2 separate regions of the Homo sapiens genome follow, and region 1 is linked to region 2. The links come from fine-mapping of genetic effects on gene expression. A gene starts in region 2. The other region holds a variant in brackets. All regions are shown on one strand. Distances are from middle to middle. Region 1 overlaps HLX (H2.0 like homeobox). Region 2 holds the start of LINC01352 (long intergenic non-protein coding RNA 1352).

Region 1 (2,909 bases), 55 kb before region 2:
TGTTTACAACCAGGGCCCTGGCACTCTAAGACCCAAGCTTCCAGCTCTAACCACTGTGTCATGTCTGTCCTTTCCTCAGCAACATTGCAAACCTGTCCTCTACCCCATCCCGGAACAAGGAAAAGTTTGTGCAGGGCTCTGGGCCCGCGCTTCGCGTCCACATAGTGATTACAGCTGTGCCTAGATTGACCCCGCCTGGCATCACTGCCTTCCCCATTCCAACTCTGAGTACTCTAGGAACTCATTTCGTCCATACTGTGAATGGGGAAACCATCTGTTGCACTGGCCTAACAGTTTCTATGGCCTGCTCCACTCTCAGGCTACTCAGGGTCTCAGAGGGCACTTTCAGTGGCAGTTGGCGCTAGAAATCTCTTAATTAGAAGCCTCTAAACCCAGACGCCCATCTCTGATGTCTGTAACAAGATGGCTCTGAGGTTGAGCCACTTCCCCTGAAACTCCAGCCCCACCACCTTCAGCTGCTGCATTCTACAGTGTCCCCGGGACTAAGGTCCGGTTGTAGATCTCTGGCCTTAACAACCCCCAGCAAAGCCAAGCGGCCTTTACAAACCGTAGTAAACATTTTATTTACAAATTTAAGGCGTCCTAAGTGCCTTTGAGCCACGACCTCTGGGGCGAGTCAGAGAAACAGTTTAGTCAAACACCTCACAGTCGAACCAGCCTGCTTCCGGAGAGAAGTGTTCGGCTGGCTAGCAGGACACTGAGACTCCCCTCTGCTTTGGGCAGTGTCCGCTGCAGCCAGTCGGAGCAGCGTGGGGCGAAGCGTGAATGTCGGGAGGTAGGCTCCACGCTGCGTCTCCTGCCCTACCAAGTCGCCAACATACAGTAAGCACAAAACCCAGCCCATGGTTGGGAGGCTGCACGCAAGGCCCGGATCCCCTCCGCCCTAGTACAGTCTATAAGCAGCCAAGCGCGCCTTGGGCTGGCTCGGGGCTTTTGGGAGCGCTGCTGGCTGTGGGCTGTGTTGCAGGGAGAAGCTCCGAGGCGCCGCCGCCGCCAAGGCTGCTGGCGCAACCCGCACTGGTGCTGCTGCTACTAAGACTGCTGGCGCTGCTGAAGCTGAAACTATTGCCGCCGCCGCCGCTGCTCCCACCACTCCCAGCACTGCTGGCGGTAATGAGGGCGCCAGTGACCGGGGCCTTAATAACTGTTGTTTGGTGCAGAGAACGCTCACTCCCCTCAGTCCGCTCCGTGTCGCTGGGGGCCATGTCCAGGGACTCGGAGTCGCTGCTCTCGCTCTCAGCCTCGCCTTCAGAACGGCTGGGGCTCCTCTCGTCCTGCTCGCCATCCGCAGCCGGGGCTCCACCTGATGGCTTCTCGCCAGCCTCCTTGTCCTTGTCCTTTTGGGCCTGGGCCTCCTTGGAGTGCCGCCACTTCATCCGCCGGTTCTGGAACCACACCTTCACCTGCGCCGCGCCACACCGGGAGACAAGAAGAGACACCGAGATGAGACCCAGGTTTGCTCCTATCCGACTCGCGTGCACCCTCAAGCCACCTCCCTGAGTGAAAAAGCAACGCTTACTTGGCGACTCTACCAAGGACCAGACACTGTGGTAGGCGCAGGAGCCAAGGGGCAGCCCAGGGGAACACAAGAAGCCAGGAATCCTGGCCTAGGGAACCCACTAAGACCGTTTTCAAAATGCAACCCTCAGGCCCCAGGACTAAAATGACCTGAGTGACTGTTGGAAAGGCAGATTCCTGCACCCGACCCCCAACATACTCTCTCTCTACTCTAAATCCATGTAATTTTTTTATGCCAGGACCCCCAT[G/A]AGAATCTGATTAAAGTTATGGACTCCTAGCCCAGAAAAATACACATATGCCCAAGATATTGCTTACAATGTCAAGGGTTTGGTGTGCCAGTGTTAAGAATTCCTGCTCTAAGTTGGCCCTCTCCTCTACTGCCACTACCCAAAGCAATACTTTTTTCAAAAAAGGAAACATGGGAAGCAGAAAGGGAAAGGGGTTTTAAACTGTTAATCACAGTAGGGTGGGGGCATTGTTGGGCTTTCAGTAAGACAGCATTTCTTTGGTGTGTTTGTACGCAAGAGCTGATAAGGACCTTGCCCCTGTTAAGGATAAACAAATTCTCCTGGGGGCTCAGAAAACAATGGAATTAAATGTGTGCAAAATTAAGGAAGGGGATAGAGATGGGGCAGAGAATCTATACAGATATATACGATCCCCTGGGGGACCCAACGCATTCACACAAGTTCCAGCTTCCCTTTTAAAAATAACATCCACAGCTGGTGGAAAACGGCTGGGCTCCTCGTGTGTGTGTGTGTGTGTGTGTGTGTGTGTGTGTGTGTGTGTGTGTGTACTGGGGAGAAGAGTTGTGTAATGGAGGTCAGAAAGAAACAGAGACAGCAATTTGGGGACCAAGGAGCTAAGAAAAAGAAGCCTGCCTCTGGCTTCTGACCTGCTGGGGAAAATCAGCACCCCAGAGCCAGAGCCAGTGCTATGGGGTGCACAAGAGTGACTCTTCCACAGTCAAAGCTCGGGTGGTGGGGGGTGGGGAAGCCCAGTTCTTAAATTTAAGAAAAAGAATAAAATTATTTCAGCCACAATACATTTCCTATTGTCTTGAAAAAATTCAAATAGGCAGAACCTGCTGAAATGCTCTTGGGTATTCTAAGAGAATCATTTTTCTTTCTTTCTTTCCCTCACCTCTCCCCTTCCTTCAGATTTTCTTCAGAGCCTAAGCCTTGTAATGTGTGGCCACTCCAAGCAGACTCCCTGCCCTCCTGGAGCTAACTAATTCCGTTTGAAATTATATTTTCACTTCCTCACAACTGGGGATTTCACAATCCAGCAGAAGCAGCAGGAGGAGGAGGAAGGAGGGAGGGTGAGAGGGAAAAAAACCCAACAACAATCTCTTGCCTTTGGGTTTTTAT
Region 2 (2,909 bases):
TGAATAGCCTGTGTGTTGGGGTTCACCCATGGGGATTTTCAAGGAGGCCTGAATCTTCTGATCCATCCAATCTCTCATTTTACACTTGAAGAAACTGAGGCTGAGAAAGGGGAAGTGACTTGGCCAAGGCCACACAGCAAGGTCAAGATCCAAGACTAAAACCAATTGCTTCTCTGTTTTGCTTATTACTACAGCACAGAAATAAAGAAATAGAGAATGGGAGAGGAGAGGTAGGTGTGGGGAGGCGATATGAAAACATGGAACAAGTGCTCTGCTTTTAGAATAACTAGAACTTTGAGCCCAGAAGATTTCTTTTCTTTTAATAAATAAATGTTTTATAATCTTACTTCTGTGGCTGGTGGGAAAAAAAGTCCTTCAAGTCCCCAAGGAATGTTAGGAAAACCTCCATTAAATTCTAGTCTTCAAATCTGAGTCATAATAACTATAATAAACTCTGGGAGTGTTTCCTTAGAGTTTCTCTTTTAGGGTGGAGAGGAGGCAGCAAAAAGAATAGGCAAGTTTTCACAAGAAAAACTTGTAAATAGGCAAGTATAACAAGAAAATGTATAAACCGGGATGGCTTCATAATTAGGCATAGCCTAATTGTGCTTATGTGTCTAGTCAAGAAACTCTATCTAGAGTTCCAGGGGAAGAAGGTGTTGGGGATGAGGGAGTAGGATTGGTTTGAGGGTAGTAGACTATATAAGGCATCATGCTCCTTCCCATGGAGGGGATGTATGATGGTTAATATTAGGTGTCAACTTGATTAGATTGAAGGATGCAAACTATTGTTCCTGGATGTGTCTGTGAGGGTGTTGCCAAAGATATTAACTTTTGAGTCAGTGGACTGGGAGAGGCAGACCCACCCTCAATCTGGGCGGGCACCATCTAATCAGCTGCCAGCACAGCCAGAATAAAAGCACACAGAGGAACATGGAAGGAGTAGACTTGCTGAGTCTTCCAGCCTTCATCATTCTCTCGTGCTGGATACTTCCTGCCCTCGAACAACAGACTCCAAGTTCTTCAGCTTTTGGACTCTTGGATTTACACCAGCAGTTTGCCGGGGGCTCTGGGGCCTTCAGAAGGCTGCACTGTCAGCTTCCCTACTTTTGAGGTTTGGGGACTCGGACTGGCTTCCCTGCTCTTCGGCTTGCAGACAGCCTATTGTGGGACTTCACCTTGTGCTCATGCAAGTCAATACTACTTAATAAGCTCCCCCTCATTTATACATCTATCCTGTTAGTTCTGTCCCTCTAGAGAAACCTGACTAATATAGCATGTGTATGTGCTTTTCCCTTTGCTTGGAATGCTTGTCCCCACTCTGACCCTAAGCACCACCACAACCTTCCTTCCTGGAGCTCAGGCTGTTATCCTCCAGGGCTCTGCTGATTCCCTGGGCACCCCGCACTCTGCTTCACAGCACTCATCACATTTGTCACTTGTGTAATTTGTTGCTTATCCCAGGCTTCCGTATTACATGATAAGCTCCATTAATGACAGTGTTGTCTGCCTTGGTTTTGTTCATGATGAGCACAGTGCCTGGCCCACAGTACCAGCTCACTAAGTATTTAGCAAAGGGCTTTATGAGGTCATCCCTGGCTCCAGCACCTCACAATCTTTATGGTGACTGTTCAGAGGGCAGCTAAGCAGAAAAGAAGTTTTCAACAAGGCTGTTTCTGGCCTGTTTTCCCTCTCAGTACTACATGGCAAGTCACGTCTCCAAACTGAGGAGTGTGCCTGAAGAGTCAGGTCTGGCAGAGAAAGGATTTCTTGCCCTAGGTTTAAACAAGCAATGTCAACATAACTTCCAAAGGCATCGGCTGCTTGGAAGAAGTGAATCCCTTGGGTCATTCCCTTGATTATTGTGAACCCGTGGCTGAGCAGGACAGAAATGTCACACAGGTGGACTGAGAACAAAATGATTTCAGATATGGGAGCCCCAAAGTGGCATCCCAAGGACAAGTGCTCAGAATTGCATGACTTGGTTTTCTGTTGAGCTATTCTGTCTTGGATAATTACAGCATGAGCTCTTGGCCAGTGGTGGGAATTAATTGGTTTTAATTCTCCCGCAAAGATTCTCTTAAGTAAAAGTAAAACATTTGCAAACTGGAGTTCTTTGAGTTATTGGTAACAACTTACTTTGCACCTCATAGCACACTGGTTAATAGCCTCCGCCAAATAACTAATATTTAGGCACTTTGCTAATGTATGCAAAGTGCTTTTAAGTATTATGCTATTAAATCTTCACAACATCACAGGTAGGTATTAGCACCATCTTACCTATTTTATGGATATCCAAACAGAGGTCTTCAAAAGTTAGAAAATCTGCACAGTCACAGAGCCAGTGGAGCCACAGCTGAGGCATGGACAGGCTGCTCTCCTACCACCTGCCAGGCCGCTCTTGCCCAGCTCATGAGGTCCAAAGTTTTCTCAACAAACTGCTTGGTGTCGATGTTGTAACCTGGAGCATTGCCCTGCAGCAGAAAGGCAGGCCTGGACATTCGCATGTCAGCATGGGGCGAAGCTGATAATTTCCAGTTGGGATCCAAGAAAAAGAAAAGCTCTCCACATGCCAACAACATTGTTATGAAGCTCTCTTGACCCAGCTACCCAACAGTGATCTCAAACATTTGGTCTCTCCAGTGTGTGTATGGGGGTGGGGGGCAGCTGGGCGTGTAGCCTTGTACACTTTGCACTTGGAGAGGTAGGGACAGGGGTCTAAATTAAGGGAAACCCTGCCCAGGGGCTGGCTTTGGGAAGCATGCCCAGCAGCCATGTGGAAGTTCACTGCATTACGGTGAATTACACCAGGTGGGGTGAGTACAGGACAAGGAAGTAGAAGTCAGAGCCTGCTTTTCAAAATCACCCTGCAGGCTGTTGTCCCCAGAAGAAGAGATCAACCTCAGGGG

What was found. PIP is the estimated chance that this variant, and not a neighbour inherited with it, causes the effect.
Region 1: its variant is the best candidate, but not a certain one, in a credible set for the expression of LINC01352 in esophagus muscle (GTEx, PIP 0.64).

The regions. Positions count from the first base shown.
Region 1 is chr1:220,882,710-220,885,618 of GRCh38, reverse strand. It overlaps HLX (H2.0 like homeobox), which reads right to left. Exons shown (of 4, transcript NM_021958.4): 4 at 560-1,424. The coding sequence ends at 915. Among named protein-coding and RNA genes, the nearest start is that of HLX-AS1, 4.0 kb to the right of the region's middle. The variant G/A (reference allele first, on the strand shown) is at 1,788.
Region 2 is chr1:220,827,878-220,830,786 of GRCh38, reverse strand. LINC01352 (long intergenic non-protein coding RNA 1352) reads right to left here and starts at 1,532. Exons shown (of 4, transcript NR_110797.1): 1 at 1,345-1,532; 2 at 1-94.